Linked DNA regions of Homo sapiens: all the other regions are linked to region 1. Evidence: fine-mapped expression QTL. A gene starts in region 1. Each other region holds a variant in brackets. All regions are shown on one strand. Distances are from middle to middle. Region 1 holds the start of FAM110B (family with sequence similarity 110 member B). Region 2 overlaps FAM110B (family with sequence similarity 110 member B). Region 3 has its middle 120 kb from the start of LINC03133. Region 4 has its middle 60 kb from the start of UBXN2B. Region 5 overlaps FAM110B (family with sequence similarity 110 member B).

Region 1 (5,107 bases):
GTATGGATGCTTGTTTGGGTACTAGTCAAATATTGTTACATACTTTTAGAGACAGAAACCTCTGTGAAACAAAAGAATTCCAAGCCTAGGATAATGGCCCACTTCTGAAGAATAAACAACACAATAAAATTCTAGTACAAACAACTAATTTCAACATTCTCTGAAAATCTGTAGCAGTCCTTAACATTTTCAGTCCCCAAAACAAGAAAACTATGTCCTAAATCAGCAAACATTAGGGATTATGAGAGCAGTTTTATTGGCATAATTGATAAGACAATATTTACTGAAATATTCCAGCATAGATGTTTTACTGTGTTCTCTCTGTCTCTTTAACCACATCTTTTATTGGTTTTTGGTTTTGGTGATGACAATTTGGGGCTATTAAATCTACACTGGGCAATAGTAAAACCCTAAATGAGAACCTTAATAATAAGAGTTAGGGGTCCTACTAAGTGAACTCCTTGGCATATACTTTATTATCAAGAAGTAGTTTAGGCAATAGAAAAGCTAAAACTTGGTCGGCGCAGTGGCTCACGTCTGTAATCCCAGAACTTTGGGCGCCTGAGGCAGGTGGATCACCTGAGGTCACGAGTTCCAGGCTAGCCTGGCCAACATGGCAAAATCCCGTCTCTACTAAAAATACAAAAATTAGCTGGGCGTGGTGGCCCGTGCCTATAATCTTAGCTACTCGGGAGGCTGAGGCAGGAGAATTGCTGAACCCAGGAGGTGGAGGTTGCAGTGAGTGGAGATCATGCCACTGCACTCCAGCCTGGGTGACAGAGTGAGACTCTGTCATCAAAAAAAAAAAAAAAAAAAAAAAGAAAGAAAGCTAAAACTCATTGGTTACATTCCTGATTTTCAAAGCATCGATCATAGGGGAATCTTTTATGATTTTATAAGTGAGTCTTCTGGAAAGAAACTTAACTCAAAATGGCATAAGCAAGAAAGACAATTTATTGGTGCATTACTTCAGAAGTTCAGGATTTGACTGGTTTTAGAGGTGACTGTCTTCGGATGGCCATTGATGTCATCAGGGCACTTTTCTGTCTCCATTGCTCAGTTTGGCTTTTTTTCTGGTTTTGTTTTATTCTCCAGTAAGTTGACTCCAGCTGCTGCACGCATATATGATATGGTCCCAGGAGCTGCCCTGTCAGTCAGGGAAAGGACCCTCCTCCTTTGTTCTCAGACGATATTCTAATTGGCTGGCCTGGGTCATATCCCTCACAATGTCAGGAAGCTCTGTGGGCTAGTCACACCCAATGGGAGGGGGAAATTCCTAAAAGGAAGGGATTGGGGCAAAGAAGTGGGGAAAAAAAGTATACTTGAGAGGGAGAGAAGTTGGTTCCATTTGCTATGGGAATGATGAAAAATAGTTTATTTCTATTGTTATATGACTTTTGGAGTTAATGGAGACCACAACGTAATCTGTGATAACAAGGAATGTATTAGTATGCCAAAGGAAAGTTCCATTTAAATCCCAGTATCATGTCACTTTCTTAAAATGGTAATCTTTAAATAGAAAAAAAATATATTATTATAAAGTCTGAGTTTTATTTAGTTGGCAACTTCTTAACTATTATGAAACAATAGATTCATTGAATTGAAGCACAATTCAAATATAAACGATCTTTCTGAGAAAATGAGATGAGTGAAATCGTATTGTTAATGTACCAGAGATTAAAAAGAAATCCTTGCTCAATATTTTCTAGAAGAAACAATTATTTTGTGAGTCCATATCCCATTCAAATTCATTTTGATAAAGATGGATTTTATCTTTTAGACTTCCCAATAGCAAAATTAAATTACAATGTGTTTAGTCTTCCTAAAACAAATCCTCTCCTGAAACAACCAAGTTATTAAGCAAATCTAAGCAGAAAGTATTCTCAAATACTATATTAGGCGATTAATAATGACGCACCCCAAAGCATTTCATTTTAAAACATCAGCTGGCCCACATTTCAGAGGTAGTACATCATGCTTGATATTTTTCGTTATTTACTATTTTCTCCAAACATTTTTTTGAAGTCTTAAAAATGCCTTCAGAAATTAAGCTAGGACGCTCCATCTGAGTATATGAAAGTTAGTAAACAGAAAATGTCAAGCACCAAGACGTTTGGATGGCTGGACTACCAGGTGGGGTTATCTCATTCAGGGCACAGGCTCTACGTCTCCAGTGCTGAGCGATCTGCACTGGGGTGGCAGTCCGAGATCCAGCGGTATCACCGGGTGGGAGCAGGGTGGGGGTGCTTGCGTGCGGACATAGGTGGGAGTGGGGGATAGGGAGGAAATGGAGGCGCCGACCGAGTGGAATGGGGGGTGGGTCAGGGATGGGGTGGGATGGGCATCAGTAGCGGGGTGGAGATGTTGAGAGAGAGGCAGGGCTTGGAGTGGAGGTGCGAGAAGGGTGGGGACCCGGAAGGTGGGGTGGGGGCGGGATGGAGGCGGGGCGGGGTGTACGAGGGGCGTGTACACTGGCTCAGGGACACGCGCTCTCGGCCACAGCAACTGGCTCCAAGTTCCCTCCCTCACTCTCCGGCGAAGCCTGCCTGAGCCCTCCCACTCGGTGCAGACCGAACCATCGCGGCCGCCGCCAGCCGGGCCCTTCGCGGCCGCGCGTCCTGGGCCCGTTCCGCCAGCCCCGTCTGCTCTCTACCCGCGGCCCCGCGGCGGCGACCGTGAACACTCGGCGGCCCCTACAGCCCGCTCTCGGCCCTTCGTCCCTCGCGGGCCCCGACTCTCCCTCCTTGCAGTCCCCCGGAGCCTGGCTCCCGGCTCGGGCCGCACCGCCAGGGACTGGGGTGAGCGGCCCAGGTAAGACTGGGCCGTGGGGGCCGGGAGAGAGACTGCTGGGCGGGGGTTGGGATTCGGGTTCAGTGGTCGCGCCGCGCCCCGACTGCGGACAATGCGGGAGCTGCGCGCGGCCAGGCGGCGCGGAGCTAAGCCGGCTCTGCGCCTGCAGCTTCCCCGCCCGGCCCGGGTCTCCGTTGAGCCCGGCCTCACTGGCCCAGGCGGACCCCGTCCGGCTTTCTGGGCTGCCGGGGGAGGCGCAGCGCCGCTGCCTGCCCCGCGCCCCCTCTGCGCTCGGCTTGGCTGCACGTCCCGGGCTCGGCTAGGAGGCTGGGCACGGGGCCGGGGCTGGAGCCGGGGTTGGAGCCAGGGCGGGGGGAAGCTGGCCGCGCTGCGGAGCGGAGGTGGGCTCCGAAAGCGCGCCGCCGGTTGCTGCTGGAGGAGTGGGACTACGAAGGATGGGGACTCCGCTCGGCCACCGCTCCTGAATGGTCTCTAATCTCGGTGTTAAATACTTTATGAGAGTATCAATACCACCTAATCCTTTGCTGAGAATTACTGCTAGAAATGTAGATTCTGAGGTTCCGAAAGTTTGTTTTTGGTTACCCCCTCCAGCTCCTCCCGTGGCCTCAATTGTCTCTATTTTCTTTGAAAGCATACAGATTTGAAATAGAATTAAATTCTCCTTGGCTCACTCGTGTCTCCATCACCCAGCGGAGCTCATAACTTGGCAACAAAGCCCATACAGGCTGTGGGAAGCCGCGATGCCTGCTGCCCAGCCTGGTGCCCTCCTATTGTTTAGAGCTGGAGCTGTACAGTGTAAATGGCAGTGACAGGTCTCCCTTAAGCTGGCTCGTGGGGAAGGAAGGGAGATAACTTTGCAGTGTGCTTAAATTACTCTGGAAAGTGGAAAGAAAACACCTGGTGCTCAGCTTTTTAACCCTTTCAAGTTGTTATTCAGATTTATTGACACACACACACAGAAAAGTGCAGGCTTTCTTTCCTGCCTAAAAAATAGGCAACCTCTGTGTTCTTCCTCACAGCCAACTTATGTCCTCTGCAAAATCTGGCACACATCTGTGACAACATTGCACTTCTGGCGTAACTGGTCTATTTCTCAAAAGGGAATATGATAGTAGAATAAGCATTTTTGCAGTATGGATAGTAGGACTTCCATTTTCTTCGTTTCCTTTGTTGGTGAAGAAGGTATTTATTATTTTCCCCCCAGTTTACACGTAGTGATTTCTGGGAAGATACTTGTATTAATTTCTTGTACTCATTTTTGTGACATCACAACCCCTGGTCATTCAGGTAAGCTATTTATTAAGCATAGTTATTCTAGAATAAAGGTGAGTTAATGGTAAACTAGAATCCTTCACTGATAACATCCCATTGGTTTACCCTACGGTATTTAATCTGTAGTATTACTATAGATTGTACATGTAAAGTCACTAATTGAACAGAGAGGTGGTTGGTGCCTTGTTAGCCTGACATAAAGTGCTTAGAACAGTGCCTTGCATATAGTTCTAGGTGTCAGCTAATATTACTTTTAATTTTTCTTATCAAGCTATGTGTTATTTTCTGTTTGGAAAATGGTCGTTTTGATTTTTAAAATTCTGATCTGTTAGGTCATGATCTATTTTAAGTCTGTGGTTTTAATTTTAGATCAGGGCTGAGGTTGGGTTGTTATTATGCCTATGACTGACAGGCTTCTCTGCGTATCCTTATGCATGGTGAGGGTTGATTTAATTCATCTTATATATTGGATCTCTAAGGGCAAGACATCAGTCTTGAACCCAGTCATGCCCTGGTGCCTTTCATAAGGAGACCTGGTTGTCTTTAAGAGCCTAATTGTTTAAAGAGAGGCCTCCACATTAGGGAAGACCTGGGCTCTGAACCCCATTCCTTACCTCCCCTGCACTCCCTTGTTCTCTAGGTTTAGAATCCCACTTCCAATTCCCAATGGAAAGAACCGTTGGTACAGCAGAGTTAAGTAACTCTCACAGTGTTAAAAGATGATAAAAGATAAATATGTCTACTGTATATACAACAACCAGAGCATTTAATTCTTTTTCATGCTTTAAAATATTTTAGAGCAGGATTTATAGCCTAACTAGCTAAGATAAGAAAACTCACTTATTTAAAACTACTTATTTGCCATGTGTTAGTAACCAAAGATTGTGTTTCCTATTTAGATATTTTAAATGATTGTCAGGAGTTTACTCTTATTTCATGTTCTCCTTTCCCCTTTAACTTTGAAGTGACTTTTTAAAAAATCGTGATTCCTAAATAACTTAGCTAAGCGAAGGCATGGTATTAA
Region 2 (5,107 bases), 23 kb after region 1:
GGAAACTGCTGCAAAGGGCAGAAAGGGTTGTAAAAGTTCTCCCAGAGAAGATGACCTTTGATGCAACAGGCTTTAACCTTCTCATTGAGAATCTTCAGTGCAGTTCCTAATTTTTAAAATAAAACTTCTGTTTAATAAGTCACATACATGTATGTTTTCCCTAACTGCTTTGCATTTTTCTTTAATCTGTGTAGATTTTCATATTTAAAATGCAAGTTCAATTATGATTTGGTTTTGGGGTTATCGTTTATTAAACATTTTGGACATCTGGAAGCAAACCTATTATCTTTATTTTTAATTTTAAAAGAAAATGTTTTTGTACCATATTCTGCTATAAATAAAATATTTATAAGTGTAGTGATTATTAGAAATTTTTACTAACATCAAGACTTTAGGCCATGAAAATGTACTTATTTCCTTGGATTTAAAAATATTTTTACAAAATAACTTTCTTTTCTTAGGAATTTTAATTGTTTTAGTTGATGAGTTGATGTTCTTCTTTATGCTCAGACAGCTTGGGCAGTTTTTGTTTAAGATAACGTTAAAGCCGGGTGCGATGGCTCACGCCTGTAATCCCAGCACTTTGGGAGGCCAAGGCAGGTGGATCACTTGAGGTCAGAAGTTCGAGACCAGCCTGACCAACCTGGTGAAACCCTGTCTCTACTAAAAATACAAAAAATTAGCTGGGCATGGTGTCATATGCCTGTTATCGCAGCTACTCGGGAGGCTGAAGCAGGGCAATCGCTTGAACCCTGGAGGTGGAGGTTGCAGTGAGCCAAGATTGCGCCACTGCACTCCAGCCTGGACGACAGAGCAAAACTCTGTCTCAAAAAAAAAAGACATTAAATTTACACTCTCAGAAAAGGTGACATTAAATTTATACTCTCAGAACATTTGTTTTTCAACAAAAATGGATACAGATACTATTGATTAATTTTGGAGGAATACAGTGAAGATAATTTCTAAATTTAGTCTTAGGTCCTTAAGTAAAAGTGCCCTCAGTTAACTAAAACGTGTTCTTGAAAAGGCATGAGGGGCCGGGCATGGTGACTCATGCCTGTAATCTCAGCACTTTGAGAGGCCTAGGCAGGCAGATCACTTGAGGTCAGGAGTTCGAGACCAGCCTGGCTAACATGATGAAACCCCGTCTCTACTAAAAATAAAAAATTAGCCAGGTGTGGTGGTGTGTGCCTGTAATCTCAGCTACTCAGGAGGCTGAGGCAGGACAATCGCTTGAATCCAGGAGGTGGAGGTTGCAGTGAGCTGAGATTGTGCCACTGCACTCCAGCCTGGGTGACAGAGCAAGACTTTGTCTCAAAAAAAAAAAAAAAAGAAAAAGAAAAAAGGCATGAGGATTTCAAGTGAAATCCAGTTAAATGAGTATTACATAATTAAAATAGGTCCTATTTGGAAATAAATTTAACTCTTGGAATATTTAACTATTCCTAACTGTATCATTCAACTCATTCTATTTATATGGTTTAATTATATATTTGACCCATTTAATCTTAATACCTCACGAAAACAAAGCTATGTAGAGTATCTTTTAATCAGTTTTAGCATCTGAGAAATCTGATGTCTCTTTGGTGGATTTGGCCAGAGGGAACTGGAACACATGCTCTCATTGCCACTTTGATGGTATTTTTTAAATCTATGAAATAAATGCTTTTAGAAAATGATTTTACTGGGCAAAGAGAGCCAGGTGTGGAAGTAAAATTTGTATTATCTATTGTTGCATAACAAATGACGCCAAAACTTAGTGGCTCAAATAATACAGATTTTCTCTCTTCACATTCTGTGGGGATTCGGAGTTTCTTAGCAGGGAGCTTCTGGCTTGGGCCTCCCGGGAGGTTATTCTCAGATGTGGCTGGGGTTGCAGTCATATTGAGGCTGCACAGAGCCTGGAGGCTCCAGCACCCAATGTGGCTAAGCTCTGGCTCAGCTCTTTGACTGGAGAGTTGATGCTACCTGCTGGTGGGAGCGGGGAGCTCAGTTCCTCCCCAGCTTAAGCCTATCCTGGCGCTGCTTGGTTGCAGGTCAAATTTTTGGCCAGCCAAGAACCTGAAGGAAGATCTTTCATAATGTCTCAGTTTGGCTAGCTACCCAACTCCACGTATTCATCCTGTTTGCCTCGTGGTGTTGCCTCATGCCAGGAAGTGCTCCAGTCTGTGTTTGTCATGTTCTGTGCCCTCCAGGAGCTCATGATGCACCAGAGAAAAGGCTAAGCCCAGGGCCCAAGAGAAGCTGGTGCAATGAGCAGCATGGGCACAGCCTGAATGAGGGAGGGAGTGTGTCCAGGAAAAGCTTTCCTGAAGAAGGTCAGATTTGAGCTGAATCAGATGTGCCTGCCTTCTAAGAGAAGGTAGATGTTAGCCAGGTGAAGGAGTAGGCTGGAAGCAGGGAGTAGGGGGAGAAATTTAGGAAGGAAATGCTAGGCAGATAGAACAGACTTAGTGAACAGACTGAGGCTCGAAACAGCACAGCAAGTCTGGAGAACTTTAGCAGTTTACTTTTTCAGTGCCTAGGGAAATGTTTGAGTTAGGGAGAGATGCCAGGACTGGAGATGCTAGTGTGGTAGGTAAGGGAGTTAGTGCTTCTCA[G/A]TCATGCAGCTTGGATGCATGTGTTTCTTGCCCATCATGCATGTTTTCTTACTCATTCCTCAACAAAGATTTGAGCATTTACAAGGCTTAAGGCATTATGCCGCTTCATTGAACCCTGAAAGGTAGATAAGTCTGCATTTTATAGATAAGAGACTGGCTGAGGGATATTAATTGACTTGCCCAAGGTGATGTGGCCAGTGAGTAGCAGGGCTACATCTGTGTGAAAACCTGAAAGTCGAGTTAAGATGCGAACCAGTTCTTCATAAGAATCACTGGAGGCACATATTTTATATAAAGATTTCAGGCCTCCACCCTAGACTTACTGATGTCTAGGGGAAGGGCCTCAGGTACTCTTTACTATTGGTGAAGTGGAGAGCTTAGCTTTGCTCTCAACTTGAACTTGACATCAGTGAGAGTGGAGGAATTGTGGAAGAGGGTGTGCAGTTTCTTTTCTGTATGTGCTGAGGGGCATGAAGTCCAAAAGATGTTTTTGTTTGGAAAATTCTGAGTGACATTACAGCCTCAATCTCTTAGAAGATGTTTTCAAAGTCTCTAAAAAATAAATTGTGAAGAAAGATATCCACAAGCTTCAGTATCTTGGAATCAACACACAATTGGATTTTTGATATCTGGTTTGATTTGATATTTCATGTGAATGAGTAGCTGAAAGGTGCTAATGAGGTATTTAATACTGGTACTAGAATCAAAAGCTGAGAAATACCTGAACACAAAGACCAGACTGGTAATAATGTCATGAGATTCCCCAGGACTAGAGAAAAACATGAAGAATAAAATTACTAAGAATTATTCAAAAGAGTGTTTTGTTGTTAAGGATTGCTCTGTATGTCATAATGTACTGTTTTAAGCTCTTCACGTGTATTGGGTCATTTTATCCCCAAAACCAAAAATGTTATTGTTTTTGTATTTCACAGGGCTATAGAATGTGAAAAAATGTGTAATTTAGTTAATTGTTGTTTTTAAATGCTCAAACAAATGTATTTAATTTTTTAATATCCTTATAATTTTTTCTGCCTGTTCTATCAATTATTGAGTGCAGAGTGCTAAAAATCTTCACCTGTGATTGTAGATTTATCTGTTTCTGTCTTTAGTTATATAAACTTTTATTTCATTTAGTTGAAGTTCTATAATTAGGTACATGCACATTTAGAACTCTCAGGTCTTTATAATAATTGACTCTTTGATCATTATGTAATGCCTTTTCCTTGTCTTTGGAAATACTTCTTGTCTTAAAGTTTACTTTGTCTGATATTGAAATAGCCACACCAGCTTTCTCATGATTATAGAGTTTGCATGGTATATATATGTATATATTTTTTCCATTCCTTTATTTTTAGTATACCTCATCTTTATCCTTTAAATGTGTCTCTTATAGTGTACAGTTAGATAGTGCTTTTTTTATTCAGTCTTGACAAACTTTCCCTTTTAACTGAGGGGTTTAGTCCATTTACATTGATTGTAATTTACAATGATATTAGACATTGATACGGTTGATTTTTAAGTCTATTACCCTATTTTTTGTATTCTATTTGTTTGATCTGTTTGTTCCTTCTTTCTTGCCTCACTTTGGCTTAATCTAGTAATTTTTCGCATTTTATTTTGTCTCCTTTGCATTTTAGCCAAGGTTTGGTTTTACTTTTTACTGGTTGCTCTAGGGATTACAATAGATAGATAGATAGATAGATAGATAGATAGATAGATAGATAGATAGAGAATCACCATCTACATTGAATGAATATTTTACCACTTCACATTAAATGTAAGAATCTTACAACTGTATATTTTCCTTTACGCTCCTCCTGTCCTTTGTGCTGTTCTCTATTTTAGTTGTATGTTTGTTGTACACCTCACAATACATTATTTTTTACTTTTCAGCCAAATATCTTTTTGTAAATGTAAAAAAGAAAAGGCCAGGCGCGGTGGCTCACGCCTGTAATCCCAGCACTTTGGGAGGCCAAGGTGGGCAGATCACAAGGTCAAGAGATCGAGACCATCCTGGCCAACGTGGTGAAACCCCATCTACACTAAAAAAAATATAAACATTAGCTGGGTGTGGTGGCACATGCCTGTAGTTCCAGCTACTCGGGAGGCTGAGACAGGAGAATCTCTTGAACCCGGGAGGTGGAGGTTGCAGTGAGCCAAGATCACACCACTGCACTCCAGCCTGGCGACAGAGTGAGACTCTGTCTCAAAAAAAAAAAAAAAAAAAAAAAAGGAAAGAAAGAAAGAAAGAAAAGAAAAGAAAGAAAAAAGAAAAAATATTTATGTATAAATCCACACATTTGCCATTTCTTGTGTGCTTCATTTCTTCCTGAGATCTAAATTTTTTCCATTTGGTATTATTTCCCTTCAGCCTGAAGAACTTTCTCTATTGTTTATTATAGGGTAGGTCTGCTGGTGATTAACTTTCTTAGCTTTCATTTAGCCGAAAACTTCTTGAATTTGCCTTCATTTTGTTGCTGAGTATGTAGTATTCTAGGTTGACAGCT
Region 3 (5,107 bases), 160 kb after region 1:
GAATGTTCTTTTCATGTGACATTAATGAAACAACTATTAGCATGTCTTAGATGGACACTATGCTAAGCACTGTGTCACATTATCTCACTTTATTCTCACAAGAACTTTAGAAGTAAATTAAAATCCATCTTACTGATGAGGAAGCTGAGGATTAAGTTTCCTCTCCAAGGCACACATCCAGTAAATGGAAAAAGCAAAACACAAACCCAGGTTCATAAAACATATCCTAAGACTCATTCTGTGCATATGAAAATGAACTTTTAATATCTAGGATGGCAGGAACCACTTTTGCTTCTTTGCAGTAAGTTGCATCACATAACATTTCTCAGAACTTAAAACACTGTTGAACATACTGGTTTGTGATTGTTTCATAGAGTGAGTGACTCAAAACTGTTGAGCGTATGTGATCACATCAGGACCCAAGTTTCTGGGTTCTTCTGAGAGGGACATTAGCAATAAACTGTCCCTCTCCATGTTACTGTACGAAGGAGAAAACGGAGATCTAGATGAGTGAGGTGGTGGACACAGCCAGGGCTGTAGGGCAAGGGAACTGGCAGAGGGGCTGGAACAGGGAGACAGCTGCTCAGACCCCATGAAGGAGGCTGGATCAGGGAACAGTGGAGCCTCACAAGGCTAACAATTCCATCGTGCCAAGTAGGAGCAACCTGGGTAACATAAACTCTGTTTTTTTGTTTCGTTTTGTTTTGTGACAGCGTCTCGCTCTGTCACCCAGGCTGGAGTGCAGTGGCGCGATCTCAGCTCACTGCAAGCTCTGCCTCCCCAGTTCACGCCATTCTCCTGCCTCAGCCTCCCGAGTAGCTGGGACTACAGGCACCCGCCACCATGCCCAGCTAATTTTTTTGTATTTTTAGTAGAGACAGGGTTTCACCGTGTTAGCCAGGATGGTCTCAACCTCCTGACCTTGTGATCTGCCCACCTTGGCCTCCCAAAGTGCTGGGATTACAGGCGTGAGCCACTGCACCCAGCCAACTCTGTTATTTTTATGCAGTTTCCCTTGACTCAAAAACTATGTATCAGATATTTAAAGAAACCTTGATTTAGAGTTTTTCTGTTAATATACATTAACTTTTTAAATTAATCCTAGCAAACATAAAATACTTAATAAAGATGGAGAAATTTATCTAAGGAAGTTTTTGTCAATTTTGGAAATGAGTACCACTGTCTTAATATCATTTTATTAACTTCACCATCCATAGATGCCCAGTTATCCTCAATATCTCAAGAACCATCTTTCCAGGCCTGGTTCCTCTGCCTCCTTGTCTGCTGAGGTGGACATTGCCACTGGTTCTGATATCCCCTTCTCTCTCCTTCCAAGATCCTAGGAGAATGGCATTTCTACACCTCATAGCATTAGGTGTGGCCAATGAGCCACCAACAGAAGCGACATGTTACAGTTGGGAGGCAGCATAAAGAGCCAGCCCACGATTGTCTTCTCTTCTCTTCCTCCTGACATGGCAACCAGCAGAGTCCCATAGGGCGGAGCTTCCGTTAGGATCCTGAATGAGGACAGTGTGGAACAAAGGCCTCCATCCTAACCCAGAAGGACTATGTCAACCCAGGGGATAAACTTTATCCTTCTAAGCCACTGATAGTGTGGGGCTCTTTTTTTACTGTGGTACAGTCTATCCTGTTCTGGCTACAGCCTCTGTTGAAGTGCACCCAATCTGCCACACAGGAGAGACCGCCATGCTGTCCCATCAGGAGGGGGTGGTAGGAAACAGAGACCAGGAATCCACCTTTTCACAAGTGTTCCCCAGATGATTCATGTGCAGTCTTTGCTTTCACAGATGATTTTCAGTGTTGCTAACTGGAAATCAGGTGAGAATATTGTAGTTGCCAGATACTTAAAAATACTTTGATACATTTTAGAACCACAATTACAAGCTCTAGCTTTTTGGAGGCTTATTTTCAGAAATTTAAAAAACGCATTCAGTTGTACCTGCCCACTGTGACAAACTCGGCAGATTGAAATCAGGTTGCAACCTCTGTTGATTTCCAATATCCCAATGCATTCTGGCCACTGTGATCTGTCATGAGGACCACCACCATAGCCTCTGAGTGGGTGTCCACCCTGCTCTTGCTTCCCTCAGTGTATTCCCAGAAAGCTACCAAAAGTGATCTTTAAAAAGCAGAAATCACATGGTGTCATTCTGTGGTTTCCATTGCAGTTATGACACAATTCTTTTAAAATGCCAAACTTCAGCCTGTAAGGCCCTTCAGTAGTCCCTCCCGACCAGGCCCCTTGCCCTCAGCCCCCATTCTCTCCACTCTCACCCTGCTCTGGGCTCCTTCTCTCTCTATGCTTGTGGAACGTACCAGCTCTTCTCACCCCAGTCCCCAGGGGCCAAGATCTTGCCATTTGGCCTTAGTAGACTATTTTTCCCTTGATATTTGATCTTCCTGTTACTGACTTGTCGTCTTAGATTTTGCTTCAGCTGACATCTCAGAGGGCCCTTCCTGCCACCCTATGTAAAGTAGATGCTGTGTTAATCTCCATCCCTTCGTATTTCCTTCCTGGTTCTTTGTAATCTGAAGTTACCATATTCATTAAGTGACTCTCTTGGTCACCTTTTACCTCCTTTACCCAGTTCAGTGTCTGGCACAGGGGTGTGAAGAGTAGGTACCTTTGGAATGAATGGAAGAATCCAAACATGACTCCTCAACTAAATCCCACCTCGTGGCTGTGGAGCCCCCACCAGCTCATGCCCTTCTGCCTCCCCTGTCTCTGTTGCTGATACCACCGTTCTACAAGAGGCAACTGGGCTTGACATTGAAGGGTTTTCTTCCTACCTGTTCTTGGAAAATAAACCAGACAGCATGTTTGAGGTAATGGGAGTCCAGAATATGAAATTCTTTTTACAAAGAGATTTTACAAGCAAGTATTTTTCACTCCTTG[C/T]GCAGTTGCCTTCAAAGGAAGGGGAAGTCCTGCTCACTTTGCACCATAGCCCAGAGCCAGGGAAGCTCTGCTGGGGGTGTGGGGCGTGGGAAATAATAATCTAAGACTATTGATATGAGCTGAATCTTGATACCCTCATATTTGTCCCAAAAGACAATGAGTAGCATACTCCTTTTCTCAGCCAAAATACAAAAACTTACCCTTTATGCGAAAATATATCCTTGGGGTAGTGCTGCTGGGTATTAACCATTGAAGCCCTCCTGGCAGACAGTTTTCCAGGCAAATTGGCCTCAGAAACACTTCCCATTTTAGCCTTTCAATGTGTGCACACTGACCTCTCCACCACGGGTTCACCATCCTGTTCTCTGGAAATTCTGCTCACTGGGGCAGAGGGAAACAAGCCATGCGTGAATGCAATTGCTCCCTCAACTGAATGAAACTGTGGTGGCTCGTAATTGATAACATATGGAAGTTCAACTGGGAAAAAGGGAAAATGGGAGAGAGAATTCTCATTACACCACCTCCTAGAATGCTTGGCTTAGCATGTTTTGCCTTCTTAAGTGTAAATAAGTTTGAAGCTTTCGAGGATTTCTAGGCATACATAATCTTTTCCAGTCCTTTCCTCCTTTTTATAATAGATGGAGAACAGCAGCCAGGTGAGGTATTTATGTGCCTCACAAACCCAGCTCCCAGACAGGTTCTGTGAATGTTTCAGTCACATCACTTTCCTCTATTGAGTTCTAGGCCATTTTAAGGACTTGAGCTACTGAGCATTTTATTTTGGTGGAAAACATTGAGACATTCATTTATTAACTTCATGGGCATGTGGTTTTTCACTAACAGCTTTCCCTGTGTCCCCCCAGTGAGCTGACAGCTGCACATGGTTTAGGAATGTGTGGCTAAGGCCTGTGGCTGCCGGAAAATCACTCCACTTGGTTTGGACAAAGGCTTGGTGTGTTCTATCCATGTTTCAGATTTCTCAGAGCATCTCGGTGTTGAAGCATCTGATCTAAAATGAACTCACTTCCCTGAAGACCCCTTGCTCTGAGTTTATGGACTTACTACCATCTGCTGAGAATTCTTTTGATTAAAAAAAAAAATCTATGAATGGAGATCTGGATAGCGTTTTGGGTTCCCAAATGTTTTCAAGTTTAATTCCCCACCTGATACCTTTTAACAGCAGTTTAATGGTTGAGATGGAGTTTTGTGCATTCTGCCGTGTATATACGCACATGTTGGATTTCTTAAGGAATGTATTCCAGACAAATGTGCTGAGGGTCAAATTATACTCAGTTATTTCCAAAACTTAAATCCTGGTGATTTTGGGGTCTGTTCAGGGAGATATGAAATGCTATGCAGACAAGCAGATTGTAGGGCTGATTTCCAGCTCAAAGGGAAGTGTAAAGGATCTTCTTTCCTTGAGCATGTATTTGTTCTTAACACTATTTTCCTTTTGATTGGATTGCTTTTTCACACATTCAGGTTTAGAGGGAAAGAAAAAAGAAAAGGAAAGAAAAGAGAAAAGAAAGAAAAGAAAAGAATAGCAAGTGTCTTGCAGGTGAGAAGGTGACACAGCTGCTGTCAAGGCTGGTTCTGCTCAACATCCATCTTTCTGCCCACCTGCAGGTGCCCACTAGCAATCACTTCCCTGAAGATGGGCACTCTTCTCACCTCTGTATCGCCAGGCCCTAGTTAACTGTGTGGCAAGTATTGGGTGTAGGTGCTTAATGTTTGCTGAATGGATGTGGAGTAGAGAGAACTAGGAGCACTTTGGGGTTCTTAATCTGTGGGGAGAGACCAGATAGGCTTAGTGGGGTGGCTTCCCATCAGTTATGTCCTGTCCCTTCATAGGCTCCCCACACATGTGTGCTGTGGTTCTCCCTCTTTACCTTCTCCATCTCACCTCTCTTCCCTGAGTTGCTGTGATGAACCAAGCATCTCTAGGCCCAAGGGATACAGCAATGAGCCCCCACAGAATAGATGCTCACAGCCATAAGGAGCCCGGCTTCTTGACAGAGAGTAGATCCAATAGCTAAATAGGTCAGACTTATAAAATGTTAGATGATGGCATGCACTTAGGGAAAGAAAAATAAAACAGGGAGGAGAGAGAGCGAGTGGCCTGCTCAAGGAATCATTTGAGAAAGACTAAAGGAAGTGAGGGAGGTGCTCTGCAGATACCTTGGAGAAGCA
Region 4 (5,107 bases), 360 kb after region 1:
CTAACGGATAGACCATGTTCAAAATAAAAATGAGGGCTGGGAAATCACAAAGCATCTCTGAACAACTGTAGGAAAGGGGTCTAGGTGAGCCATGGGATGCAGGCACAGGCCACAGCGTGGGGAAAGGTCTGGTGCTACTGTGGCTTCCCCACAATGTGATGCAAGGGTCTGGGAAGAATGCTGCCTGTGTGCCAGGAATCAGAAGGAGGCACTGGTCTGAAGATCCGGGTCCTGGAGGAAAGCTTCATTCTGTCCCAGGAAGGCTGGTGCCAGGCACTGATGTTATGTCTCAGGGCCCACCCAAGTCCAGTTCTCCCAATGGAGTAGAAGAGAATGATCTCTTCCTACTGAGGAGTATCAATGAAAAGAACACTTGGATTTTGATGTCTCTCCTGACCAGCCTAGCTCAAGTTGTCTCCTCCATTCATTCTCCTACTCCTCTTTTTAATTATGTTTAAAGCCTGCATTGCCAGCTGAAAACATGGATTTGTTTTTCAGGTTTCTTACTCATTTCCTTGTGGGTGATGTTTACTTGTTTCGAAGATGTCCTAGCTATTTATGAGCTATGGGCTGAATATTTGTGTCGCCCCCAAATTCACCGGTTGAGATTCTAACCCCTAATGTGATGGTATTAGGAAGTAGGGCCTTGGAAGGTGAGTAGATCCTGAAAGTGGACCTCCCATGAATGAAATTAGTGTCCTAATAAAAGGGAGCCCCAGAGAGCTCTCTCACCCTCTTTCCACCATATGATGATATGATGAGAAGATAGCCATCTTCCTGACTAGGAAAATTTAAGTATAATTTTCCTTTTCTTTGAAAACCTAATGACCACCATATTGAATTAGCAGTCACCTAAGCCCCTATGTAAATCTCACATATGCTGATATCTAGCAAAGTCATGATCAGTGTTTCCGCAGAGTTTAAAACCTCCATGAGGAATGATACATTTAATAGCTATTTCTCTTTTTTTAATTATCCAAGTTATTTATTTATTTATTTATTTTTTTGAGACGGAGTTTCGCTCTGTCGCCCAGGCTGGAGTGCAGTGGCGCGATCTCGACTCACTGCAAGCCCCGCCTCCCGGGTTCACGCCATTCTCCTGCCTCAGCCTCCTGTGTAGCTGGGACTACAGGCGCGCGCCACCTTGCCCGGCTAATTTTTGTATTTTTAGTAGAGACGGGGTTTCACCGTGTCAGCCAGGATGGTCTCGATCTCCTGACCTCGTGATCCGCCCGTCTCGGCCTCCCAAAGTGCTGGGATTACAGGCGTGAGCCACCGCGCCCGGCCAAGTTATTTTTATTTTAATGATCCAAGGTATTTTTATTGTGGTATTTATTCATAACACAAAATTTGTCATTGTAGCCATTTTTACATATATGGTTTAGTGGTAAGAAGTGCCTTCATATTGTGCTACTGCCACCACCATCCATCTTCAGAACTTTTTCATCTTCCTCATCTGAAGCTCTGTGCCCATTAAATGATAACTCCCCTCCCTCCAGACCCTGGAAACTACCATTCTACATTATATTATTATTATGTCTCTATAATTTTTACTACTCTAGGTACCTCCTATAAGGGGAATCATATAGTATTTACCTTTTTGTGACTGGCTTATTTCACTGAGTATGTCCTCAAGGTTCATCCATGTTGTAGCATGTGTCAGAATGTCCTTCCTTTCCTAAAGACTAAGATTTCATTGTCCATATATACATTTTGCTTATTCATTCCCCCAGCATTGAATATTTGGGATACTTCCAATAGTTTATTCTTATCATACAGGCATTTATTCCACTCAACAAAAGTACACCGAGATCCTAACTCCATTGCCCCGAACACCTGGTTCGCCTGCCAGCTTCTGTTCCCCACAGTGTGTCCTCAACCCCTTTATTGACTTTGCAGGCCCTCAGCACATCTATTTTCTTTCCCAGACATGATTTTTCACCACAGCTGTGGTTATTATGGCAAAGTCCTTCTCATGCTTAAGAATCCAATTCAAATACCAGCTTCTTTTTCAAAATCTCTCTCTCTTCCCAAGGTTCCTCTGATATTCCCAAAGCATTTTTCGCACCAAAACAGCCCCAGTCATGATGAATTGTAAGTATTTTAATTGTGCATATTTTTCACCTCTGTATTATATGCTCACACCAAATAAATCTTTCAACTCCCAGGGTTTAGTCCAGTAGCTGGTACATAATTTGTACTCAGTGAATATTTTTTGAATGAATTAATACAAATATGAATTATCCTTTGTTTTTTTCACTGTTTTCCAAAATTGAAAAGTAAGTTGGAAATAGTATACTGTATGAATAATTTTCAAACTCTGTCTTCCAAAACAGGTTGGAGGGTTTTCTCCTTTGCATTAAAATATATAGCCATCAGTTAACATGATAAGCTGATATCAAGTAAGAATTC[A/C]ATTATTTAACAAATGAAAAATTTGAAAGAGACATAAAAGCAGGAAAAGCAATGACAGGCTGGCATAGAAACACTGTCTTCTCACAGTGCTGCCTGCTTTCTTCTGTCGAGTTTAGGGGACCCACGTACAAGGCTTCGATTCAGATAACCGTAATGATTAGATCTCTATGCAAATCTGCCCCATCCTGAGAATGTGTGACTTATTTTGCTATCTTCCAACTCCCAATGGCGTCAAACAGTAACAGCGTTCTGGACAGATGGAGTTGACGTGATAACACATAGGGGCAGCATATCAAGAAACACTTCTGACAAGTGGTAAGTGAATACTGCATCTTCAACTGTATAAAAATAAATGCTACAATTTATTTCATGGAGGAGGCATGGTAGCAACATATAATGGAGATGAAGTAAACTTTACTGTCTGTTGGCCACCTTAGATATTCTTTCAAAGTTTCTATTGCTGTTTGAAAATATTGCAAATGTTGTCACAATTCCCCATAACTAGCAAGAATCCAGCATTAGAAAAGAAGTGTTTAAAATACAAATAAGATATGCTGACATAAATGTGTGGAAAAAACACCCATGTGGCCACATTTGCACAGTCAATAATTTTCTTGTTTCATTTTCCTAAGTGACCAAATTTACCCAGATATGACCGGGTAAGATTGATAAATAAACTATGTTTATTTATCCTAACCTGCAAATGTGTTTTAAATATATACATTAATATCTACTAGTACTAAAAGAAAGAATAGGCCAAATCAGACATTATTTTTTTCTGCTGAGCCCTGGAGTTACATGACTGCCACTAATTTCAGGGTGGGGAGCAAAGGAGGTTTAAGGGTTCCAACTCTTCAAACCTCCCAAAACAGAAGGTATGGTTTTAGCTGTTTTACACAGTGGTCATCTGACGAAGAGATTTCATGATTTCCAAAACTCAGAAAATCCCTATGCTAAAAATATAGAAACCTGAAGACAGCAGAATCTCATGGAAAAGAGCCAGGGCTCAAATTACTAGCGATCTAGTTCAGGCTCTGCTACTAACTGGACCTGTCACACTGGACAAACCACAGGAACTCTCTGGGCCTCAATTTCCTCATCTCAAAACTAATCCAAGAGATAAGAATCTATATAGTCCACTTCAGCCTAAAGATTCTGAAATCCAAATAAAATTTTGAAAAAACATGAATATTGTCTTGTAGATATGTAAATGCAACCTTTATTTGAGAAGTTTTTAAAGGAATTTTACTTCATAATAGCAATGGCCTTCCATGTAATCAATGTAATGTGTGAGAGTCATCTGTCTTTACGTTGTGTTTCGTTTGTGTTTAGTCTCAATCCTTTCCTTGGAATTCTGTTCCTGTTGGTTTGGGTTGCCTGATTAGAAACTGTGAATGCCTGAACCAGACCTCCTATTCAATTTGCTTAACTTATTAATTATTTAAATTATATGGTTCAATTAAACTGAAATGGAGATCCCTATTACCCCAAAGTAATTAAGAGGATACAAGCTCTAATCCATAATTCAAAAATTATAAAGATATGACTGCATGAGGGATGCTTGCCCAAGAGCTCAAGGCTGTTCCATATGTCAGAGCAAATGTTTCTTTTTGTTGCCAATAATATCTTTTATATACTGCAAAGTAATAATATATCCACTATCTTTGGAATATCATATGAGTGGGATAAGCAAACATACCAATACATACCAGATTTTCAGTCACATCACCTCATTTAATTTTCACAATGGTGCCATCAGATGCGTGTGTATGCACATGTGTTGTCTGTGTGTGTGTAATCAGGAAATTCTCAAAGGGATTAATTATGCTACCCAAGGTTACACCAAGTAGGGGTTAGCGATCTGGAATTAAACACAAGTTTTGAAATCCCATTAATTTTCCTATCCATTGCATTAATTCTCTTGACAATAGAATTTTTCATCTAGAGTAGTTGCCAAATCTTAAGCCTCTGCAAAGTGCAAGGGCACTGTGGGAGAAACAAGAACTCTTACCTCTGAAGCTCACACTTGTCTACTTGACAGCCAAAGCACAGAGAAAGTACCATGTGTTCGGCTGCTCTTACATTGCTATAGAGGAATACCTGAGGCTGGGTAATTTATAAAGAAAAAAGGTTTAATTGGCTCGCGGTTCTGCAGGCTGTATAAGCATGGTGCTGGCATCTGCTTAGCTTCTGGGGAGGCCTCAGGGAGCTTTTACTCATGACAGAGGGTGAAGCAGGAGCAGGCACATCACAGGGTGAGAACAGGAACGAGAGTGCAAGGGGGAAGATGCCAATCACTTTTAAACAACCAGATGTCACAAGAACTCACTCACTATCGTGAGAACAGAACAAAGCCATGAGGGATCTGCCCCCATGAACAAAACACCTTTCACCAGCCCGCTCTCCAACACTGGGGGTGACATCTCAACATGAGATTTGGTCGGGGGACACCCAAACTATATCACACCACATGACAAAAGCAGCATGTATTGAAATGGTCCAATGAGCAATATGCCCTGAAGGTAGTGTAAGAACTCAGGGAAAAGGAAAATTATAGGCTGCATGGAGAACATCTCCCTACAGGAGATAGGACCTGAGCAGAGCTTTGAAGGAAGGTTTTGGTACATGGAGACGTCAAGGAAGGCATTCCAGGCAGGGCTGGATAGTGCAAGCAAAAGCTGAGAAGCAAGAATGA
Region 5 (5,107 bases), 130 kb after region 1:
ATTTTCTCAATATTAAAATATGACAAATGTGAGAGCCCATTTCTCCATATAAAATGTCTTATGACCTGAGAAACATGTCAATTTACATTGTAATTTTAACCTCTTGTTATTTTTTAAAATCATGATTGTTCCTTTATTTGGGAAGCAGATTATGGATCTCTGTCTCTTCCCCCAGCTGTTTTCTTTAAACATTTTACTTTGAAATTACAGATTCACAAGAAGTTGCAAAGATGGTAGAAGTTTCATGTGTCACCCGGTACCCTCCCATGGCTATATGTCTTATATAATTATAGTACAGTATCAAACCAGGAAGTTGAGCTTGTATGTATAGTTCATTTTATCACTTGCATAGATTTGTGTAACCACCACCACAATCAAGATCCTATTCTGTACCACAGAGATCCTGTGCTTTACAAGCACCCTCATGACTCCTCATCCTTATCTCCTGAAAACCACTAAATCTGTTCTCCATCTCTCTAATTTTGAGAATGTTATATACATACAGTATGTGACTGTGTGACATTGGCTTTTTTTCATGCAGCTGTTCCTCAGATACATCCCAGTCGTTGCATGCCTCAATAGTTCGTTCCTTTTCATTGCTGAGTATCAGCCATTGTATGGATATACCATAGTTTAGTTAACCATTTGCCCATTCAGAGACATTTTGGTTGCTTCTAGTTTGGAGCTATTACAAGTAAAGCTGCTCTGAACAACTGTGTATAGTTTTTGTGTGGATATAGTTTTCATTTCTCTGGAATAAATGCCCAGGAGTGCACTTGCTGGGTTCTATGGTAAGTGTATGTTTAGTTTTTCAAGAAACTGCCCAGCTATTTACCAGGGTGTCTCTACACTATTACATTCCTACTATCAAGGCATATAGTGATAGAGTTTCTCTGCATTCTTGCCAGCATTTATTGGGTGGTGTGTCTCTCTCTCTTTTTTTTTAATCTTACTTGTTCTAACAAGTGTGTAGTGATAGCTCATTCATGAATAGTGATAGATTTTAATGTCTTATAATGTTGACATCTTTTCATATGTCTATTTGCCCTTTTTATATGCCCTTTGTTGAAATGTCTTTTGCCCATTTTCCAATTGGATTGTTTGGTTTTTTTAAAGTTGAGTTCTGAGAACTCTTTGTATGTTCTAGATATGAGCCCTTTGTCAGATGTATATCATGCAGATATTTTCCCCAGTCTGTTGCCTATCTTTTCATCCTTTTAACAGAGCCCTTCACAGATAAAAAGTTTTTGTAATTCTAATCAGTCAAATTTATCAGTTTTCTTTCATGGATCACTCTTTTGATGTCATATCAAAGAACCCTTCATCAAGCCACAGATCCTAAAGATTTTCTTCTTTGTTGTTTCCTAATAATAACATTTTTTTATTTTACAGTTGACTCTATGATTTTGAGTTAATTTTTGTATAAGGTATGAGATAAAAGGTATGAGGTCAACGTTTATATTTTTGCCTGTGGATATCCAGTTGCTCCAGCACCATTTGTTGAAAAGTCCAGTCCTTTTTCTTTGAATTGCTTTTGCACCTTTGTCAAAAATCAGTTGGCTTAACTTGTGTGGGGCTCTTTCTGGGTTATATGTTGTGCTCCACTGATCTGTGCATCTGTCCTTCCATCATACCACAATCTTGATTACTGTAGCTAGATAATGTCTTGAAATTGAGTACACTGATTCCTCATTCTTTATTCTTTTATCTCAGAACTGTTTTAGCTATTATACTCCTTTGCCTTTCCATATAAGTTTTAGCATAATCTTGCATAAGCTCGCAAATAACTGATGGGAGGTTTTGCTTGACCTTCTCCCTCATTTTCATCTGGCCCACTTTTCTTACACCTGCTTCTTCTTTATTGTCTATCTTGTCTTATATGATTGTCTACATAGAAAATCTCAAATAATCTACACAAAAATGTAAATAAAAAACCCTAGAACCAAAAGGTGAGTTCAGCAAGTTCGCAGAATATAAGATCAACAGACAAAAGTCAATTGTATTTCTCAATAGTGGTGAGTATGTGGAAACTCATGTTAAAAATACTATACCATTTACATTGGCTCAAAAAAAATGTAATACTTAAAAATAAATCTAATAAAACACATCTAGAACTTATATGCTGAAACCTACAAAACACTGATGAAAAAAATCAAAAGTCTAAATAAATGGAGAGGAAGATCCCTATTTATGGACAGGAAGGCTCAACCTAGTGAAGATGTCAGATTTCCTCAAAGTAAACAGGTTTAGCGCAGTGGTTCTCAAATTCCATAAGGGGTTTTGGAGATTCTCTTTTAATCCATTTCATTTTTACAAGAACATCTAGAATTTGCATGTGTTTGGATGGATTGACCAGGGAAGTGATTTTTCTCACAATACACAAGTACTGTCAGTATGTCCAATTAAAAATAACCGTTTTACTATAAAAATATAGTTCACACCTTCTGTATGACAGACAGGCCCTGTGCTCAGTGTCTTCCAGCCTTCACGCCATATCACCTTCACTATCACCCTGTGAGGAAGGTGCTGTTATTATCCCATTTAACACATGGGAAAAGGGAATCACACAAATGGAATTCTCTTGTCCAGAGTCACAGAGCTAAAAGACAGGGAAGCAGGATTCAGACTAGACCAACATGAGTCCTGCATCTGCTCTGCGTTCAGTGTTCCACGGCCTCCTAGGGGTCTTAGGGCCTTCTTTGGTTTCATCAGGATTCTCACATCAAGTGCTCTCAGAGAATTCTACTTTTCGAAAAATCACTGTAATCCTTACATCACTTCCCTCACCAGCACCCTGTGAGGCCCTGTTTTGAGTTT[C/T]CCCAGTCTACTCTAGGATTTCAGTTTCAGTTAGAGAGCTGAACCCAAGGATTATTTAAATTGTCCAGCCATAGGGAAACATTTGATAGATACTTTTCAGGAAAAAAAAAATTAACTGTGTTTTGAGAATGTTGATTAAAAGAGCCCTTCTCATCTGTCAGAGAAGGATGGCTGTATAAGTATTTGTCTTTTGCCCTGCAAGTGGGGGAAATGGATTTGGGGATGACACATCACTTTTCTGAGGTATCAGAGGAAGTAGGTCACATTTTGCTGTTGATCATAATGTTTGAAAAAGCTGGCATTGAAAAATGAGAAATTGCATTTTGAGTAGTTCTTTGTCCAAAGACTAGAAATATTTTCTGAGACAAACAATAAGTTTTATATTTTTTTTTCCATCATCTCCCTAGGATAACTTTTCTTTTGTGGTCAGTTTTAGCCTGCTAAAAGGAATCATTGGCTCTTCATAGACGTATTGGCTGCATTTATTGAAATGTCTTTTCAAGTATCCTTGTAAACACAGGAAAGCTTCACCTCCTGAGTTCTAGAAACAACGCTGGGAGTGATCCAGAATGCCTTAGTAAATAAAATAGATGAAGGTTTAAAAGACTCCGTCTATCTTTAGAGCTATTAAACAAAAGAGAAACATTCAACATCTTCCCTCTAATAGTCAATAAGAAAGAAGAATGTCACAAAAGAGTTCGATCCCCTCTAGGCTAATGGAAGGGAAACCACCTGAGTCAGAGTTGGTCTGGAGAGGCAAGCATTACACCCAGTGGTCTCTGATGTCATCTCAGCTCTGAGCCAGTGGCCTCAGGGGTACTGTGTCCCAACTGGAGAATTAACAAGGTGATTACTGAACTGTAATTGCTGGCTAAATGTCTTCCAAAGACTATCATAATCTCAGAAATAAGCTGACACATTACATGCAAATATAACATGACCTTTTAGCACAGTTTATTGCAGAAACATCCACCTCTCGATAACATTAGAAGCTGCCTCCGTTCTCCAGTCAGCCACCCCCTTCGGGGCCCCTGTTGGTAGTATTTTAGCCCAATAAATGGCTCCTGTCCAGTGGTTCCCTTGGCCTGGAGGAAAGGAAGGCGCTGCTGGAGGCACTGTACACATTCTGTACCTTCTCATACATGCTGTATGAGAAGTATGTGAGGCTCGAGGCTCAGGACCATAAAGGATGTGAGGGATCAACCCTGGCACAGATTGCGGCTACTAGAACAGGGAGGAACAAAAGGCTGACAGCTTACCAAGGCAGAGCCACACCCATGCAGGGTCTCCAGTGCCCACGGCTGATGAGATGCCCCGCATCCTGCTCCTTCTTTCTTCCGCTCTTACTTTTTTCATCCAGTCTGCTTAAACCTCCCTCTTCTTTACTGTCTTTTTTTTTCTTAGATTTAATCTACTTATCAAAAACATTCTTGTCACTTTCTTAATATATTGCAATGATTTTTTTAATGCTTAAATTCTTATTACAGTTTATCTTTAAAATTCTGCCTTCATGTTCTGTCTTCATGTTCCTTTCTTCTTGCTTTGAAAGTAGAAGTTTCAAAGAAACATAGAACCTATTAGAAAGGAACTTGACATTCACCTGCCTCCTCCTTACACCCATTATAGGAATCCCCTCTAAAATTTCTTGAACAGATGTTAAGTCTACCTCTGCATGAAGCATTCCTAGGATAAAAAGCTAGCACTTCTTTAAAAACCAATGAATTCTAGTTTTGAACAGTTTGAATTGTTCAAAAATTCTTCCTTCTGTTAATCTGCAAATTGCCTTTATAGTCTATGATGTTCATCTGATAATGTTTTCTCCAGTTCGTTAAAAAGAACAGTAGCTAACATATATTGCCGCCTCTACGATCATGAGTCCTGGTATCAGCCCCATGGCACAGCTAAGGAACCTAAAGTTAGAGAGACGATTCTTCAAGGTCATGCAGTGGTAAATGGGGGAGGGGACTCACATGTTCTGACCCTAGGACCTAGAACCTGCGGTCACACCAGCCTTTCCTCCTTATAGGCACAGTTTACATTTTCCCTTAGAATCCAACTATAAAATCTCCTCCATCTCTACCCTGAATTGTGCAATCTGTTCTGTGGAATGTATGTGAATGCCTGAGCATGCCACAAAAACAGGGAATTGTGTCTCTTCCATTCATGTCAATACCTCCAGTGCTAGTAACAGTGCCCAGCGTGAGTATAAATTGAATGATTGAATCCCTTCCTTAGCTATTATATTACTCTATGAATTCTTAGCTGTTTTCTCCTAGGATCTGATTCCCTG

Evidence for each region. PIP is the estimated chance that this variant, and not a neighbour inherited with it, causes the effect.
Region 2: its variant is fine-mapped to the expression of FAM110B in whole blood (TOPMed, PIP 0.93).
Region 3: its variant is fine-mapped to the expression of FAM110B in whole blood (TOPMed, PIP above 0.99).
Region 4: its variant is fine-mapped to the expression of FAM110B in whole blood (INTERVAL, PIP 0.95).
Region 5: its variant is fine-mapped to the expression of FAM110B in whole blood (TOPMed, PIP 0.98).

What each region holds. Positions count from the first base shown.
Region 1 is chr8:57,991,996-57,997,102 of GRCh38, forward strand. It overlaps FAM110B (family with sequence similarity 110 member B), which reads left to right and starts at 2,528. Exons shown (of 4, transcript NM_001377989.1): 1 at 2,528-2,811. RefSeq lists silencers at 2,855-2,904, 2,925-2,974 and an enhancer at 2,979-3,479.
Region 2 is chr8:58,014,529-58,019,635 of GRCh38, forward strand. All of the region lies in intron 1 of FAM110B (family with sequence similarity 110 member B), which reads left to right. Among named protein-coding and RNA genes, the nearest start is that of FAM110B, 23 kb to the left of the region's middle. RefSeq lists an enhancer at 1-92. The variant G/A (reference allele first, on the strand shown) is at 2,601.
Region 3 is chr8:58,153,061-58,158,167 of GRCh38, forward strand. No RefSeq gene overlaps it. Among named protein-coding and RNA genes, the nearest start is that of LINC03133, 120 kb to the right of the region's middle. RefSeq lists a silencer at 1,656-1,755. The variant C/T (reference allele first, on the strand shown) is at 2,918.
Region 4 is chr8:58,348,613-58,353,719 of GRCh38, forward strand. No RefSeq gene overlaps it. Among named protein-coding and RNA genes, the nearest start is that of UBXN2B, 60 kb to the right of the region's middle. The variant A/C (reference allele first, on the strand shown) is at 2,413.
Region 5 is chr8:58,125,647-58,130,753 of GRCh38, forward strand. The region is part of intron 3 of FAM110B (family with sequence similarity 110 member B); the gene reads left to right. Among named protein-coding and RNA genes, the nearest start is that of FAM110B, 130 kb to the left of the region's middle. The variant C/T (reference allele first, on the strand shown) is at 2,818.